Linked DNA regions of Homo sapiens: region 1 is reported to be linked to region 2. The links are microRNA targets in miRTarBase. Many come from high-throughput screens and were not tested one by one. Region 2 holds a microRNA gene; the other region holds the end of a gene's coding sequence.
The links. The annotated mature microRNA hsa-miR-324-5p reads CGCAUCCCCUAGGGCAUUGGUG and lies in region 2 at 5,072-5,093, shown strand. An mRNA with a match to its seed (bases 2 to 7 or 8) in the 3' UTR can be bound and repressed. Matches are read on the target gene's strand: a 7mer-m8 pairs with bases 2 to 8, a 7mer-A1 pairs with bases 2 to 7 and ends in A, and an 8mer does both.

Region 1: the mRNA of USPL1 is a reported target of hsa-miR-324-5p. Seed matches in the 3' UTR shown: 7mer-A1 at 8,104-8,110 and 7mer-m8 at 7,343-7,349.

What each region holds. Positions count from the first base shown.
Region 1 is chr13:30,656,359-30,667,756 of GRCh38, reverse strand. USPL1 (ubiquitin specific peptidase like 1) reads right to left here. Exons shown (of 9, transcript NM_005800.5): 9 at 6,991-10,283. The coding sequence ends at 8,401. Among named protein-coding and RNA genes, the nearest start is that of TRN-GTT2-4, 12 kb to the left of the region's middle. RefSeq lists enhancers at 7,836-7,955, 7,696-8,455.
Region 2 is chr17:7,221,293-7,228,435 of GRCh38, reverse strand. It overlaps MIR324 (microRNA 324), which reads left to right and starts at 5,057; the gene lies at 5,057-5,139. It overlaps ACADVL (acyl-CoA dehydrogenase very long chain), which reads right to left. Exons shown (of 20, transcript NM_000018.4): 7 at 6,754-6,898; 8 at 6,355-6,484; 9 at 6,134-6,259; 10 at 5,571-5,769; 11 at 5,199-5,303; 12 at 4,706-4,792; 13 at 4,561-4,623; 14 at 4,367-4,468; 15 at 4,193-4,290; 16 at 4,043-4,115; 17 at 3,884-3,956; 18 at 3,722-3,794; 19 at 3,552-3,627; 20 at 3,170-3,479. The coding sequence ends at 3,339. It overlaps DVL2 (dishevelled segment polarity protein 2), which reads left to right. Exons shown (of 15, transcript NM_004422.3): 10 at 392-459; 11 at 653-781; 12 at 901-1,032; 13 at 1,167-1,346; 14 at 1,797-2,015; 15 at 2,123-3,094. The coding sequence ends at 2,571. RefSeq lists an enhancer at 2,981-3,480.

The DNA of each region.
Region 1 (11,398 bases), not on the chromosome of region 2:
GGTGTGGCCGGGTGTAGCGGCTCACACCTGTAATCCCAGCACTTTGAGACGCCAAGGTGGGCAGATTGCTTGAGCCCAGGAGTTCGAGACCAGCCTTGGCAACACAGTGAATTTCGGTATTTAACAAAAATACAAAAATTAGCCAGTTTCATAACCTGGTCTCAAAATAAACAAATCAGTAGAATATTTTTTAATTAAAAAATGTTATTAAATGTAGTATGAAAGATATGTGAATGGCGTATTCTAAATGGTTAAAGAATAGTGAAGGTTGTTCAATAAGTATTTGAACAATAAGTTTACTGTTTGGGGAAAAAAATAGTACAAAATAGAAACTTCAGTGTTACACATCAAAATACATTACAAATAATCAAAGATTCATATACCAAAAGAGAAAGCAAAGGAAAAAAAAAAAAGAAACGTAGTTTCATTAGAAGATATATATATTCTTTTGGTGGAAACAATCTTGCTAAAACATGATGCCAGAAGGAAAAGAATGTAAAATAATGTTAAACTTCTACATGTCGAAACATTAAAAATGATGATCAAGCATAAACCAAAATTGCCAAATGACAGAGAAGATTTAATATCGTTACACCTAGAGCTGATATAAATGAGATCCCAATTCAACGACTGGAAGTCTGAAGGGAGCCCACAGAGCTTCTCACACTTCTTGTTCAGACACACCTTGCCCCCAGTCTCTTTCTCCAAAAGATTCCTTGCCTTGTCTTTTAAACTGCCCAGGAGGCCAATCCCAAGAGAGATACAACAATTAGAACTCAGCCTCCCTCGGCTGGGTGTGGTGGCTCACGCCCATAATCCCAGCACTTTGAGAGGCAGGAGAATCCCAAAAACCCTCTCCCCAGGAGACCCCTTCATAAGTTGTACTCTTTTCTTTTTTGTTGTTGTTGTTTTTGAGACAGGGTCTCACTCTGTTGCCCAGGTTGGAGTGCAGTGGCACGATCTCAGCTCACTGCAACCTCTGCTTCCCAGGTTCAAGTGATTCTCTTGCCTCAGCCTCTCAAGTAGCTGGGACTACAGGCACACGCCACCATGCCCAGTTGATTTTTGTATTTTTAGTAGAGATGGGGTTTTGCCATGTTGGTCAGACTGGTCTCAAACTCCTGGCTTCAAGCAATCCTCCCGTCTCGGCCTCCCAAAGTGCTGGGACTACAGGCATGAGCCACTGCACCCAGCCTAAGCTGCACTCTTGATCGCTGTCACCCTGTGAAGACTGAGTCTCCCAGGACACTGAAGCCTAGACCTAACCTCGCCCCCTGACCCTCCCACGGTGCCTTTTGGAATGTGTGGTCTGTCTTTAATCCCACTGCCCCAGTTTTTTTCTGCCAACAGTCCCTTCCCTGCTGTCGTGCTAAATGGAACCTGAATATTCGCTGAATGTCCCTTTACAGCCCTGGCCAGTGGTGGCTGTCTTATCTCCCGCATTCCACATACTTTTGGGCCTGGAGATGAGAGAGGTTCTTCCTTGTTGCCATTTCAGCCACTCCCTCCCCTTCCCACTCAACCCTCCAGTGACTCTGAAACACTTTGGACTGAGCCCCTGCCCCTGCTCCTTTGGCTGTCATCTGCCGTTTTCATGGCGTTCTGCCTGTCCTTGAGGATTTTTGCTCCGGCTCACTGTATATTTCTTTCTGCTAGGGCCACTGCTGCCATTTAGATGACTTTGCCTCACACAGAGACAATCCATGTGCTATCCCAGCCTCTTGGTGCCTCTTTCTCCTCATTTTTCATGAATTCTTGCCAACTCTGGCCCTGCAGTTTCCTTGTCATACTCAGACTTTGTCATCACCTGTAACCTTGCTATCTCCAGAAGCTTAATTTCAAGCACACTACTTTCTAGCCAGCTTACTTCCTCCACAAGTGCCTCTCTGCCATTCTTTGAACCTTGCTCTGACCCACTGAGCTCTGCCACCACTCAGCAGACAGCCACTTCCTGTGTTCCTTACTTATCCATCCCTACAATCATTACCCTTGCAGGAAGCCTTATTCCTTTTCTCCTCTATCTCCTTGTCCCATCTGCCTGACAATTCCTCTACGTTGGCTGAAATTAACTTCACACTTAGTCTCTCTGTCCTGCACCTGAGCAGTTAAATACAACTGGAGAAAAATAAACCACCATCTTGGCTGGTCGCCATTAAATTGATGACCATAAACTTCCCACGGGCTCTCCGCACAGCTTAGCAAGCCCACTGCATGTCCCTATTCAATTCGCTCTCCATTCTGAGACCAATATTTCACACCTGTCTTCCTCCATGTTCAACTCCTTCTCCCCTCACACCCTCAGCTGATGATCTATTTATTTCCCCAAGAAAATAATCAGAAGAGACCGTTCTCATTCTTTTATCAGCAAATCTCTTAGCATCTGAGCCTAAGTACTTTGTCTTTCCTATTAATAAAATAATTTTTCTAGCTCTTAGGGTCACACCGCCTCCTCTTAGACACTGGAATCCCATCCCTGGAGAAGTTTGCCCCCGCAAGCGCCCCTTCTCTCACCTACAACATCCATGTGTCAGCCTCTCCCATCTTCAGAACAGTAACAAAAACCTTGACCTCACATTGCCCTACGAGGCACCAGAAAATGTTTCAAGAGTGAGTCCATAGCTCCACTTTCTCACCATCCCTTCTCTTGAGCCCACTCACACTTGTTCATGTGAAACTGTTCATGTGGAGTTAGCAGAGCTAACTTCCCTATTGCCAGAGCCAGTGGCCAATTACTCTATTACTCTTTTTCAGCAGCATCTGACAGATAATCATCCCTTCCTTTTAAAAAAAAGAAAAGCATTCTTCCTTGTATTTTCAGGGCACCACACTCCTATTGAATGAAGCTAGGCAGGCAACCATGTGACTAAAGGAAGAACATTCCAGGAAGAGCAAAAGTCAGGAGGAGCAAGTGTGCTTGGCCTTTGCCTTGGTCTGCTTGGGCTGCTATCACAAAATATCTTAGACTGGATAATTTATAAATGTTAGAAATTTAGTCTGGGCATGGTGGCTCACGCCTATAATCCAAGCACTTTGGGAGGCCAAGGCAGGCAGATCACTTGAGGTCAGGAGTTTGAGACCAGCCTGGCCAACATGGCAAAACCCTGTCTCTACAAAAAAATACAAAAATTAGTCGGGCATGGTGTCATACACCTATAGTCCCAACCACTTGGGAGGCTTAGGCACCAGAATTGCTTGAACCAGGAAGTGGAGGTTGCAGTGAGCCGAGATGGTGCGACTGCACTCCAGCCTGGATGACGGAGCAAGACTCTGTCTTGAAAAAAATATATATATATTGCTCACAGTTCTATAAACCAGGAAGTCCAAGATCAAGGCACCATTTTTGTTCTTCAGAGCTGTTTTAAGTCCCTAAATGACCCCATCCTATAACATGATCCACACATTCCTAATTCCCAAACGGCTATCTCCAGGGTGTCCCTCTCCGCTGAGCTCCAGTGTTGCAGATCTATCTTCCTATTAAATCATCTCCACTCGAAAGTCTAATAGGAATCTCACACTTAACACACTCCTAATGGGATTATCTTATCCCCTTTAAATTCTTTCCTTCCCAAATCTGACCCATCTCAGGAAATGGCACAATTGCTCAGTCAATAAAACCTGGAGTTCATTTTGACTCCTCTTCTACCTCACAGCCAATGCACATATCGTGTTGGCTCTACTTTTGAAATCCAACAGTAATCCAACTACTCTTGAACACCTCCAGTTACCACCCTAAACTCCAAGGAGATTGTAATAGACTAGGACTCCTATTCAGACCATCTGTAGACAGTCTCCCCACTTCAGTGATCCTTTTAAAACCCAGATCAGATCATGTTACCCTCTTGCCTGAAACTTTCCTGAGGTTATCTATTATTCTCAGCTTAAACAAAGTCCTCACTATGGCCTACAAAGCCATATGAGATCTGGTGTCTGCTAGCCTCTTTACTCATGTCCTAACTCTCCTTCACTGATCACTCTGCTCAACCACACTGGCCTCTTGCTTATCCTCAGTCATGCTGCTGTGGTCTCAATGTTTGTGTCCCCCCAAAATTAGTGAAGTCTAAATCCCCAATCCAACAGTACTAAGAGATGGGGCCACTGGAGAGACGGTTGAGGGCTCTGTGCCCCTCTTATGCCATGTGAGGACAGTGAGAGAACCAGCCATGAAGCAGAGCAGCTTTCACCAGAATGTGCTGATACCTTGATCTTGGACTTCCCAGCTTCTAGAACTATAAGCAATACACTTCTATTATTTATACATTTTACCCAGTCTAAGGTATTTTGTTATAGCAGCCCAAACAGACCAGACACATGCCTAGCACTCACTCTTCATGACTTTTGTTCTCCTGGAACGCTCTTCCTGCAATCACATGGCGAGCTCCCTAACTTTATTGAAGCCTCTTCTCAAACATCACCCACCTCCAAGAAACCTTCCAAGTCTACCTGGTCTAAAATACTTCTCCCTCTCATCCACTCCTCTTCTCCATAGCATTTAGTGCCATCTGACATAAGAATCAGTCCTCGGCCGGGCGCGGTGGCTCACGCCTGTAATCCCAGCACTTTGAGAGGCTGAGGTGGGTGGATTGCCTGAGGTCAGGAGTTCGAGGCTAGCCTGGCCAACATGGTGAAACCCCGTCTGTACTAAAAATACAAAAATTAGCCGGGCATGGTGGTGCAAGCCTGTAATCCCAGCTATTCGGGAGGCTGAGGCAGGAGAATCGCTTGAACCCGGGAGGTGGAGGCTGAACCCGGGAGGCGGAGGTTGCAGTGAGCCGAGATCATGCCATTGCACTCCAGCCTAGGCTACAAGAGTGAAACTCCATCTCCAAAAAAAAAAAGAATCAGTCCTCATTACTCACAGATTCCGTATTTGTGAATTCATTTACTTGCTAAAATTAATTTGTAACCCTAAAAATCAATGCTTTCAGTGCTTCTTGTGGTTATTCGTGGACATGCATGCACAGAACAGAGAAAAATTTGAGTCACAGGACGTGCACATTTCCAGCTGAGGTCAAACAAGTCAATACTCCACCTTCCTCTTTCAGTTCACACTGTAAACAAGTGTATTTTTGGGGGACTAGTGTCTTTGTTATTGTTCCTTTTTTTTTTTTTTTGAGACGCAGTCTCGCTCTGTCGCCCAGGCTGGAGTGCAGTGGCGCAATCTCGGCTCACTTCAAGCTCCGCCTCCCAGGTTCACACCATTCTCTTGCCTCAGCCTCCCGAGTAGCTGGGACTACAGGCGCCTGCCACCTCGCCCGGCTAATTCTTTGTATTTTTAGTAGAGACGGGGTTTCACCGTGTTAGCCAGGATGGTCTTGATCTCCTGACCTCGTGATCCGCCCGCCTCGGCCTCCCTAAGTGATGGGATTACAGGCGTGAGCCACCTTGCCCAGCCTATTGTTGCATTTTTTTGTGCTTTTTGTTGATTTCACTGTTTAAAACGTCCTCAAGTGCAGTGCTGAAGTGCCGTCTAGTGTTCCTAAGCACAGAAAGCTATGATGTGCCTTATGGAGAACACCATGTGTCAGATAAGCTTCGTTCAGGCTGAGTTACAGTGCTGTTGGCCATGTTAATGTAAAGAATCAACCATATAGATCAAATAACATGTCTTTAAACAGAAACAGAAAAGGTTATATAGTGATTGTTTGACAAAAATCTCATGACCACAGGCTAGCAGGAACCTATTTCCCCTAGGAACAGTATTTCAGTTTATACTAATTCAGTGTTCAAGGCAACTTTATTGACCATAACTACTACAAATGACATGAATCAACTGCATGTATCTCCTATTACTACCTAACATTATATATTGATCTCCATGTTTGGAAGGCAAACTCAAAAGGAGCAAGGATTTCCTTCTAGTGTGCTGCCTTATCTCAGGCTGATAACAGTGCTTGGTCCTTAGCAGTAATCTAGAAATATTTGTTGAAAAGATAATTAGTACAAGCAAAGGATAAGCAATTCTTAAACCCACCCCCGCCTCCACCAAAAAAAAAACAAAACAACAACTCAAGTGGACAATAGTTATAGAAAATGTTCAGGCTCACTAGTAATCTTGGAGCACCCAGGATTGGTTCCCCCCTTCCTCCCAATACTACTACCTAGTGTTGGCGAGGGCCCAGGGAAGTCAGTCATGCAATCACCAAAAAACCTTAAATGTGCATTTCCTTTGACCAAGCAACTCCACTCCTGGAAAACAAAACTTGGATCCATGCAAAAATTTATCAACAAGGCTAACTGCTGCAATTAACAATGGCAAGACAGTATAAATCACCTCAGAATCTTAAAACAGTGAAACAATGTTTATCCATTAAAACAGATACAATAGGATCTCACGTTTATTTAAAATCTATATGCATAAAATAGGAAAATGTTTGTAGTCACTAAGTATTAAAATGCATGGTCAAAAATCTTTTTTTTTGGTATTTTCCTAGTTTTTCCTTGACAATATGCACTACTTTTGTCAGAAAAAAAATAAAACAACACAGAAGCTTAGGAGTAAATCTGACAAATAGATTATGAAGTACTGAGTCCCTAGCAAATAATTTTACTGCAAGGACACTGGCTGCCAGCCTTAAACCTCAGTAAGTACTGCTGTTAACTCAAATCTCTACGGCAGTGGTGCTGTTTGGGCATCCTACTTTAAATGAAGCCTGAGGAGTGGAACATATATTGATAAGCTCAGCACTCAACTGCTGTAATAGCCACTCTACTCAATCTCAGCTCCACAACTGAATGAGTACAGTCTCCTTATCTGTAAGATGTGATAAAAGTATCTCACGCACAGGAATGTTGAGGTCTAAATGAAATAACATCTATCTCATATATCACAACCAACATCTAACAAGCCTCACAAGCACTGGTTATTACTCTCTCCCAAAACAGAACTGTTAGATGGTGTCCCACTTTGGTTACAGAAGTAAATGTCTTGGGAAGAAAGATGGTATTTGTGATAACATGTAAAGTTTGTACATCATCACAAAAACAGGTAACTTTTTTCTGCTATCATTTATTTATAGATTTATTGATCACTTAACATTACTAAAGTTCAAGTAACAAGGTTTCTTGCCCTCCTCTGTATGGAGAGATAAAGGAGATAAGTGACATAGGGAAAGTTTACATTCCACAGCACTCTACCGGTGTAACAAACAGGCGTAGGCTCTTACAGAAGGCCACACAACCATAAGGAAAACTGTCACACATTCATATACCGTATACAACTTAAATCTGCATAAACTCTTGAACTAATGATGGTGGCAGGTGCTCCAGTCAGCCTGCTATCATTCCGGCTGCAGCCTTGGAGCAGGCAAGATCTCCACCCTCCTGGGTGCGGGTGCAGACTCAGGCATCCCTGCACTTTTGGGGGCCTGCTTTTGCAGGCTCGGAAGTGCTTGCCTCTGCAGCTTGGCTTCTCCCTGCTATTGGCACCAGCTCTCAGATCAAAGCAGGGGGGTAAGCCTGGAAGCCATGAACAGGGAGGGCCTGAAGGCTGAGGGCCAGGCTGCCAGTCCCACCTGTAGGAGTGGGAACTGGTGCCTTTTCCAGGCCAGTAAGTATGCACTTCCTCCCCCGAGGCCCGTAAAATGCCCCAGGCTCAGCCAGAACTGAGCAGAGGGTGGGACGACCAGCAACAGGGAGGAGCTACCCTCTCTGCTAAGAGCTTCAGAGACCTGTAGAGACGGCAGAACAACCTGCCTATGGATAGAAGCTATCCTCTCCAGGGCCCCGTCTGAGAGCAGCAGGACCTCTGGACAATCTGCCTGCGAACAGAAGCTACCTTCTCCAGGGCTGCTTCTCTGCTGAGAGCTGAGAGGAGTCACCCTCTCCAGGGCCTTTTCTCTGCTGAGAGCTGAACACTTGAGGGACGACCTGCCCGCCGACACAGGGGAGCTGCTCACTGTGGGTCTCCTTCTGAGCTGTTCTAACACTAAATAAAGCTCCTCTTCTTCTTCTTCACCCTTCATTTGTCTGCATATCTGGACACAGGACAAGAACTCGGGCACCGTGGGCAAAGCGCCACGAGCAACAGGTTTCCAGGGGAAGAAAACCACCACAAAGATCACTCATAACACTAACATAACCAAAACTTCAAATCTAAAAATGTAATGCATCCAACTGTACAAACTGTCAGAAACTAGACGCCACTTTTCATCTTTAACATTTTGAAATCCTCATACTCTCACAAGAACAAAATGAAACCAAAAAGGAGAACACATTCAGTGATTTTAATGTGTAAGAAAGATTACATGCTTCATGGGCAGAACCAAAGGTTAAACCTTGCATTTTGTTCATGGTTATTACACAAGTAATTACACAAGTCCAGTGTATAAACACTACCTGAACACATTGTAAGTTCTTCTAATAATAATAAATATTATATGAAAAAAGTTAACAAGCATTAATTCAATAATTCTCAAACAGATATTCATCGAAATGAGGTAGGTCTAATGTGTCATTTGCTAAAGCATTTAATGCTGAGGAGGAAAAAAACTCATCGAAAATATCAGTCTTCATCGGACTCTCCAAGTTTAATGTTCTAACGCAGGCATTATTTGTCAGAGAGTCTGGCTGAACTTCACATGGATTTTTCTTGGTGGGGCTACAATAATTATGGTCCTGTCTCAGATGTGTGTTCTGGGAAACATCATTGAATTCACTTGGTACTGGTGGTGGGATATGACTATCTCCCATTCCCAAATACCTAAAGTCACCTTCCCCATTTTCTGACAGCTCTGTTGAAACAGGTGTAGGAGACAATAATTCCGCTAAAATTTCTTCATGAGTTTGACTACTGTACAGGGAAACACCAGGAACAGTGGTGCATGCAGACTCACTGGCAATATCAATTGGATATGGTAGCTCATTTAACAAGTCCTCTATTGATTCACAATCATTTGGAGACCCATCCTGGGGCACCTGTTCTAGATTTTCACTTCGAACTGTTCTGCTTTGCGGGGAAGACATAAGAGCAGCTAATTTCTTCTTTTCTGCCTTTAGCTTTTTACGAAGTTTTAGACGAAGTTTATGAATCTGACCTTCCACCAAGTCTTCATGGTTTGCTGAAGAAATACCATTCCCATAAGAACTGTGGTTGAGTTGAGCTCCACATGAGGTGCTTCCAGACTTTTCCAAAACTTCTGAAGCAGCATGAGCATGTGGGTGGGCAGCTGTGCCATTAGACGATGGAGGGCCTGCTGGTGGCTTACTGATGGGAGGAGGCTTACTTGCACTCTTACGAGCTTTCTTGGATACGTGGCTGGCCTTCTGGTTTATACCTTTAGTTTTAAAGCCACCAAAATTATTTACCCCTTTAACTGAAGGTTGTAAATCAGTTATAGTGTTTCTATTATGAGCTGAAACACAGAGTGGCATAAAAGAAGCACCCCTGCTTATTAAGCCTTTAACCCAACTTCCCACAAATGGCTTCTTCTGATTTTCTTTCAGAGACTGATTCTGTAATGACTTAGATGTTGTGGTTTGAGAATCTGCTGTAGTTTCTTTTTTCTTCAAATTAGATACCTGAGATGTGACACGTTCTGGTTTTAATTGTTCAGTTTTTGGTGTAAGGAATTGTTTTAACTGAGCGTCCTTCTCAATTTCTACTGACTTCACTCCCTGTATAAGACCAGTAGCATCAGTATTATTCACAGATTTAGTATTTACAGTATCTTCTGTATTCAGCTGTACTGACTGCATGTTTGTATTTACAACTTGGGATGGAAAACTTATGTCCACAAATTGGTCTTGAATAAGCTTTTCATTACATGGAGCTGATACTGAAGAAGCCATTAGTGATTCTTGTGATAGCAAAGTATTGGTTTTGAGAATTCCTGTATTTTCTGCTACAGGTTTATTTTCTAACAGGAAAGCTTCAGAATTTAACTGTGAAACTGAGGCTGTTTTCTGGATAGTTTCTTCAAGTGTCAGAGGTAAAATATTGTCAACCAAACCTTTTGGACCTGAAAGTAAATGATCTCCATGAGTTACAGCTGTGTCCTGTGAAAGAGTACGAGGGGCAACTGATATATCTTTAGGGTGAGTTACTGAGGCTGTTTCAGCTGAGGCAGCATCACCCACAGAACACGATGTTAAAGATACTGGTTTCTCATTACTGAGAGCGTGTTGGTCATTAGTCTTTTTAAGTGGAAGGCAGGCAGCTTCTTTATCTGTCACTTGGGATATTTTTCTTTCCCAAATAACAATATGTATCTCTGAAGCAGGAACTTCAAATTTCTTGTGCCTTTCAGAACATGGGCCTTTTAAGTCATCACATTCCAGCCAACTTCCTGGAAGATGGGAAAGAAGTGAAAGTTAGATATTCAAAAACCACCATCCTAGGTTAACTTTCTTCTGGCCTTTTCAACTGTTGTATCATTGAATACCGACCAAAGGAGAAGACTCTAAAACATGTTCTTGACCTTGTCACCATTGTCTGCCATGTTAAAGTCCTTAGATAGAGTATATTTAATTTTTGGAACTTAGAATTTGGTTATCACCTAATTTATCCAATAACATCAGAAAACAGAATGTTTCATACATATATGTTTTCATGATAAATGAAGCTTGTTACCTGAAGGATCACTATTCGTTTTAATTCTTGTTTTATTTCTGAGCTTCCATTTTCACATTTGTCAAGAGAGAATGAGATGATAGATGACAAGGGAAGAGTTTAAAAACTAGCAGTAGGATGCACTACCAAATACTGAAATATTAATACAAAACTTGGGAAAAGTCCATTACTTAAAGCAGTGTGTCGCTGGCAGTTATTTTTGCCTGAACAATTTCAATGGTGCCAATAGGGAGAGGGGTCCTTATGTAGTCAACTAAAGCATGAATGAGGAGTAAGAAGGTAACCTGTTTAAACCATTCCTTTAAAAAAAAAAAAAGACACCCATTAGGATGGATATTATTAAAAAAAAATAGAAAATAGCAAATGTTGGCAAGGATGTAGAGAAATTGGAATCCTTGTGTAACGCTGGTGGGGATGTAAAATAGTACAACTGCTGTGGAAACAGTCTGGCAGTTCGTCCAAAAATTAAACACAGAATTACCGTTAAGACCCAGCAATTCCTCTTGTAGGTTTATGCCAAAAAGAATGAAAAGCAGGGACTTTCAGTTCCTTGTCCACCAATGTTCACAACAGCATTATTCACAATAGTCAAATGTCCGTAACAGATAAATGGATAATACATACAATGCTACTCAGCCTTAGAAAGGAATGACATTCTGCTACATCCCACAACACAAATGAATCTTGAAAATATGCTGAGTAAAATAAGCCAGACACAAAAGGACAAATAATGTACGATTCCACTTCTATGAGGTATCTAGAATAGACAGATTCACAGAGACAGAAAGTAGAATAGTGGTTACCAGGGCTTTGGGGTGGAAGGATGCGGAG
Region 2 (7,143 bases):
CCCAAATGCCTCACTGCCCCAGGGGTAGTCACTCTCCTGACTTCTTTGGCCATCACCATAACAAAGAAAAGCTTTGCCTCACTGGATAGTTACCACCCTTGCACGTATCCTTGAACACTGCAGTTTCGTTTTACCTGTTTTTGGACTTTCTGTGAATGGAACTGTACAGCGTGTACTCTCTTGTCTCACTTGGCAGTATGTTTTTAAGAGTTTTCCATGTTGATGAGTCATCCACATTGTGGTGCCTTCCACCCTCACCTTCTCTAGCCCAGCCGCGATGTGCTTGCTTCTCCCCCTCTTTGTGTCTCTTAATCCATCCTTGCTTCAGACCCCCGCCCTCCTGAGGCCTCCTCTTCCCCTGCGCCCTTGACTGGACTTCTCTTCCCCATAGCCCCATTGTGCTGACTGTGGCCAAGTGCTGGGATCCCTCTCCTCAGGCCTATTTCACTCTCCCCCGAAGTGAGTGACACTCAGGGAGGGGCCTGAAGTTGGGGGTGGGGGCTGCCCAGGAGGCTGGGGCCGGGCCTGTGGTCATGGGGAATGGGTGGGAGGAGGGTCCAGGCAGAGGTGGAACAGGAGGCTGAGTCAGGGAGGGACTGGGCTGGCTTTTGGGGACTGAGAATGGGTCATTTTGGTGCCATCTTTGTCCCAGATGAGCCCATCCAGCCAATTGACCCTGCTGCCTGGGTGTCCCATTCCGCGGCTCTGACTGGCACCTTCCCAGCCTATCCAGGTTCCTCCTCCATGAGCACCATTACATCTGGATCGTCTTTGCCTGATGGTGAGCCGCCAGCCCACCTCATCCCACCCTCCCAGCAGAAGGCTGTCCCGCAGTGGTCTGATCCATTGCCCTTGTGGGAGCGATCCCTGACTCTGGTTACCCGTTGTCTCCTCTGCCAGGCTGTGAAGGCCGGGGTCTCTCCGTCCATACGGACATGGCATCGGTGACCAAGGCCATGGCAGCTCCAGAGTCTGGACTGGAAGTCCGGGACCGCATGTGGCTCAAGATCACCATCCCTAATGCCTTTCTGGGTATGGCTGGGTCCTGGGCAGGTGGCTGGAGAAGGGGAGGAGGTGGTGACCAAAGCCAGGAATGGCACAGGCAGAGGCGAGAGCAGGAGTTGGAAGAAGAACCTGAGGCCTTTTTCCACTGTGGGTGCTCCCAGGCTCGGATGTGGTTGACTGGCTCTACCATCACGTGGAGGGCTTTCCTGAGCGGCGGGAGGCCCGCAAGTATGCCAGCGGGCTGCTCAAAGCAGGCCTGATCCGACACACCGTCAACAAGATCACCTTCTCTGAGCAGTGCTATTACGTCTTCGGAGACCTCAGTGGTGGCTGTGAGAGCTGTAAGTCCCCCTGCCCCAACTCTGGGAGTGTGGCTTTGCCTACCTTGTTCTGCCTCTCCAACCCTAGACCTAGCCCAGAAACCGCAGCCAGGGCCACCATGGATGGTCGAGCAGTGTGTGTCCCGCACTAGGTCCTGCACTGGCCGAGGATGGGGGCTGACGTCCACCCATGTGCTGCTGGACAAGCCATGTGCCAGGTGCAGGACTGTGTCCACCGGGGGAAGGTGCACCTCTTACCTGAGTCCCGCAAAGACGTGGGCTAGTGGCTGTGCCCCTGCCCTCATGGCAGAAGTAGATGGGAGTTTCTTGTCAGAGACCCTTGTGAACCCCTGTTTTGAGCCCCATCGTGGGTGGGTCTGGGAGAACTGTTCCCAGTTCCTCTCCATTCGGTGTCTTGGGGCCCTAGCCTCTTGAAGCAGTGATTTCTTCCTCTCTTCCCTTGCTTTCCAGACCTAGTCAACCTGTCTCTCAATGACAACGATGGCTCCAGTGGGGCTTCAGACCAGGATACCCTGGCTCCTCTGCCTGGGGCCACCCCCTGGCCCCTGCTGCCCACTTTCTCCTACCAATACCCTGCCCCACACCCCTACAGCCCGCAGCCTCCACCCTACCATGAGCTTTCATCTTACACCTATGGTGGGGGCAGTGCCAGCAGCCAGCATAGTGAGGGTAAGTCATCCCCACATACCTGTACGGCCAGGATCTGAGGGTGGATGAGAGGGGAGCCAGGGAGGAGCCTGGGTGAGGACTCAGTTGCCCCTCCCCTCCCTCCACAGGCAGCCGGAGCAGTGGGTCGACACGGAGTGATGGGGGGGCAGGGCGCACGGGGAGGCCCGAGGAGCGGGCCCCCGAGTCCAAGTCCGGCAGTGGCAGTGAGTCTGAGCCCTCCAGCCGAGGGGGCAGCCTTCGGCGGGGTGGGGAAGCAAGTGGGACTAGCGATGGGGGCCCTCCTCCATCCAGAGGCTCAACTGGGGGTGCCCCTAATCTCCGAGCCCACCCAGGGCTCCATCCCTATGGACCGCCCCCTGGCATGGCCCTCCCCTACAACCCCATGATGGTGGTCATGATGCCCCCACCTCCACCTCCAGTCCCTCCAGCAGTGCAGCCTCCGGGGGCCCCTCCAGTCAGAGACCTGGGCTCTGTGCCCCCAGAACTGACAGCCAGCCGCCAAAGCTTCCACATGGCCATGGGCAATCCCAGCGAGTTCTTTGTGGATGTTATGTAGCCCACTGTGGGGCCAGGCTGGGCCGGGCGCTCCTGGTGTGTGACTGGGTGTCCTGGCCGTCATGTGCTTGCTCTTACAGTGCCTGGGCTCAGCCTACCAGCTGCTGCCATACAGGAGATTGTGGCCACTGTGACTCTCACCAGCAGTGCCTGGTTCCTCCCCCTTCCCTCAGGGGTAGACAAGGGACCTTTGATTATTTTTAGCTTTGTTTTTTTATAAGCCTTTTTGGGGGTTAAAATAGAGTTTCTTACATTTTTGGGACTTTTTTAATAGGCATTTCCTCTTTTATATGAAGAATTCCCATCCATTGGGCCCCTTCTAACCCCAGAATGTGACCTCCTCCTCCAGTTACCCACAGCCCTGCCCTTTGCAGGGTTGGGGGTGGTCAGCGGTACCCCGGGGTTAGGCATCCTAGACAGCAGCCTGAGGAAGCTGGGAGATTTGGGCCATGTAGCTGCCTTTGTTACTCTATTTATTTTAGTCACTTGTATAAAACACCAAATAAAGCAATAGAGGCAAACTCCCCACGCCTCTGGCTCCTTTCTTTGGGAGGGAGGCAGGCAGCAGGGGGAAAGAACCGTCACACAGGAGCAAAGCATGACTGGCTAGAAATTTTTATTATTTGCGAGGCAGTAAGTGCTCTTGAGAGCAGGCACAGTGCTGGGAACACTAGGCCCCTTCGGGACAAACCAGGGCCTTAAGGAAAGGGGCTTCGGCTTTGGCTTGAGGGAAGGCACATAACTGGGACAGGCCCTGGCCGGGAGTATTCAGAAGCCAAGTGGGTTGCTGGTGACCACACCACCCCGCTCCACCAAGGCCTTGGAGATGCTTTTGAAGTTGCGGTAGAGCTCTTGCTGCCAGGGGTCAGACTGCAGGGCGGCCATGCCCTCTCGGATCCGAGCTGCAGCCTGGGGAGAGGGAAGGAGGGGTTGGGCCTGCACCTCCAGCCCTCACCTGAGCTTGGCAGCCCCGAGTCTCACCTCGATACACCAGGTGTCACAGAGCATTTTCTCATGCTGGGCCGTGGGGTGGCCCTCACTCAGGGATCTTGAGGCCCTGGCAGGAAGCAGGAGATGAAAATAAATCTGGGCCGGCTGGGATCCAGGCCCAGGCCCCCTGCGGCTCAGGCATTCCCTGCCTGCCTCCTCACCTCGAGAGAACCACCACCATGGCATAGAGGTCGATGGCCCCGTCTGCCAGCCGCTGCAGCAGAAACTGTTCATCTGTCCGGTAGGTGGGGTGGGGGTGGGGGTGGGGGCATTAGTCTCAAGGAGAGGAAAGGGAGGGGCGGAATGGTGTAGAGCTCACTTACTGACAATCCCCTTCTTGTGTTTTATCAGCTTGGCCTCCACCACAGTGGCAAACTGCTCCAGAGCCCGTACTGCCTTAAGAGATGGGGACAGTGCGGGGCTCAGAGGGGCCATCGGCTGCAGTCCCTGATGCAGGCTCTCCTGGACCCCTGGCCACTTACCAGCTCGCCACTCCGACTCAACTCCGGGTGGACAAGTCCGCTGAGACTCAGGCCGCTGCCCAGCCCTGCCCGCCTGAGAGGAAGAGGGAGAATGACTGGTTAGTTGCCATACACCACCCTGCCCTCCCCTGGCTCTGGCCCTAAGCCTACCGCCTCAGCTGTTTGCCTGCCTCTCCTAGCAGGAGGCCAGCATTCCCAAAGGGATTCTTTAGAGCACTGCCAAGCCCAGAGAGCTCCTTTCCTTTGTCCTATGGGGGAAGAGGGTCCAGCAGTCAGGACTCACTGTCCTCCCCACCTCTACCCCCACCCAATTCTCTGTCTTACCATACAGCCCTGCAGAGCCACAAACAGCCGAAGAATGTCATTTGTCCCCTCAAAGATCCGGAAGATGCGAAGATCTCGGAGCACACGCTCTACTCCAGGTTCCTAGCACAGGGCCACACAAATTATATGCCCGTGCTGAGATGTGCCTACCCACCCCTGGCCCAGCCGAGGCTCTGCAGAAGACCGTCCTGTACCTTCATGAAGCCCATACCCCCCATGATTTGGATGCATTCATCTGTCACCTTCCAGGCTGCCTCCTAGGGACAAAGAACAGATGAGACTGGTTTTGGGAGCTGAGCACCCAAACTGGACTCCCTCCCAGCATGCCTGGGACCTCACCGAGCCAAAGATTTTGCTGATGGCGGCCTCTATCTGGAAGTCCGTGGCTCCCTGGTCCATGTTAGCACTCACCATGTAAGCCATGGACTGAGGTTGCATAGTTGGGACATGGGAAGGAAAATTGCAAAGGGCTTTGTCAGACTTGGCCTCATCACCCAGATCTCCAAGATAAGGGCTGACCTAGCTTGTCAGGTCAGGCAGATACTTGTTCTGGGTCAGTTCATCAGGTGCTTCCAGGTATTTGTTTTCTTAAAAGGGGTGGATGTAAGGGATGAGGTAGAATTAACTTCTGGTACTGCTGGCAGGCACCTGAGCAGAACATCATTGCTGTCTCTCTTCGCAGAAGCTGAGCTGACTATGCCTCCCCGCATCCCCTAGGGCATTGGTGTAAAGCTGGAGACCCACTGCCCCAGGTGCTGCTGGGGGTTGTAGTCTGACCCGACTGGGAAGAAAGCCCCAGGGCTCCAGGGAGAGGGGCTTGGGAGGCCCTCACCTCAGTTACATACTGCAGCATAACCATCCGTGCCAGCTTCTCCTGGATCAGCCCAAAGTTGTGAATTTTCTCCCCAAACTGGGTACGATTAGTGGCATGATCTACCTGGAAGAGGGTCCACACATCCCGCTGTGGTTCAGTGTGGTTCTGCAGTCTCCCTAGGAGAGGGGCTGGGCTTGCGCCAGAGGGATGGGTTTTGCATACAACCAGAGTTCAGTCTACGCTGGATGGAGACCTAAGCTAGCAAGTCGGGCTGCTGGTAGGGGAGGAGTTTCTAGTGTAGGGAGTGCCTGCAAGTGATCAGGGACACATGGCAAGGGGGACAGTGAGACTTCTGTTTGGGTTACCTAGGGACTCGGGCAGGGTACTCACCGCCTTAGCAATGATGCCTCTCATGGTACCTGCCAGGGCCGCAGCCATGCCAAACCTTCCATTGTTGAGGATGTGCATGGCAACCTTGAAGCCACTCCCAACCTCACCCAGCACGTTCTCCGATGGCACCCGTACTCCATCAAAGAACACCTCTGCTGTGTTTGAAGCCTTGATGCCCATCTTCTTCTCAGGGGGCCCACTGTGTCAGGGCAGTGTGGGAAAGCAGAGGTGTGTTCAACAGGTTGTCACTGGGGGAAAAACTGCTCCTTCGCTCCTTATGCACCAGGGAGGAATGACGACCACTAGACTATTAGAGGCTACAGCCACCACTTCCCCTCAGGCCCTGAGGGCTAAGGAGGCCTGGCTATGTCCTATTTTGTGTTGGACTTGGTTGCTGGAGCCAAAACTTTAGCTCAGTTGCATACATATTAGTCCCAAAGGCCACATTCAGTCCACCTGCTTTGGCTTTTGCACACGTCCCCAGGGTGACTTGCAACAGCCATCTGCCCAGGAGCCCAGTCCTGCCCCTCAGTCCTAAGCTCCCCCAACCCAAATTCACTCACTGGGTAATGCCCCCGAAGCCCCTCTCCACCACAAAAGCTGTGATCTTCTCCTTCACGGCTCCTGTGGCTGGATCTGTAACTGGTGTCTTGGCAAAGACCGTGAAGATGTCTGCTAGGCCCCCATTACTGTGGAAGAATGGGATATTCAGGGCGTGGAGGACGGGGAGCAGTGGGGCCTGGAATTGGGCGGAGGAGAAGGGGAGAAATGGGAGGCAGGTTGCCTGATCCAAAGCTTGCTTCCATTGAGGGTATAGTATTTTCCACAGGGGCTGGGCACAGCAGAGGTTCGGATGGAGGCTGCATCTGACCCGCTTGAGGGCTCGGTTAGACAGAAAGCGGCCACAGTCTCCCCTGTTGGGGAGAGAGCTACTTTACCCCAAGTTCTGATGAGCTTCAAAGTCCCCTCGGCCCACTTCCCCATCCCTCCAGCAGGCAGTTCCCCCTTAACACCTGGGAGTATCCAGTTCTTTTGCATGTCCCAACCAGCACACTGTGATGCCTCCCCAAAACCTTCCCCCAACTGAAATGCTCAGCCATCTGATAATCTAAGTGCCAACTGGCCTAATCTGTGCCAAGCCCAGTGTGCCCCCCAATCCCTGGCTCTCCTAGGGTTGCCTCACCAGATGCCAGCTTGGGGAGGTATTTTTCTTTCTGGGCCTTTGTGCCAAAGAGCAGGATGCCTTTGAAACCGATGCTCTGATGGGCCCCCAGGGTAATGCCCACGCCAAGGTCATGCATGCCCACGATCTCCACCAAACGGGCGTACTGGAGGGGAAGCAGGAATCTGGGGTTGTCACTGGCTGCAGGGGGACCTGACCTTAACAGGAGAGTGTGGGCAACAGGGCAGTTCCTGACCTAGGGCAGTTCCTGACCTAGGGCAGTGCCTGACCTGGGCCATCCCCAGTGTGTAGAAAAGAAGTGGGGTGTGCAAAGGGCACAGCAGAGAATGCTGGTCTGTCTTAGGTCTAGGTAGGAGGGTGACTTGCTACTAGTCAGTCTATTGTTAGGCA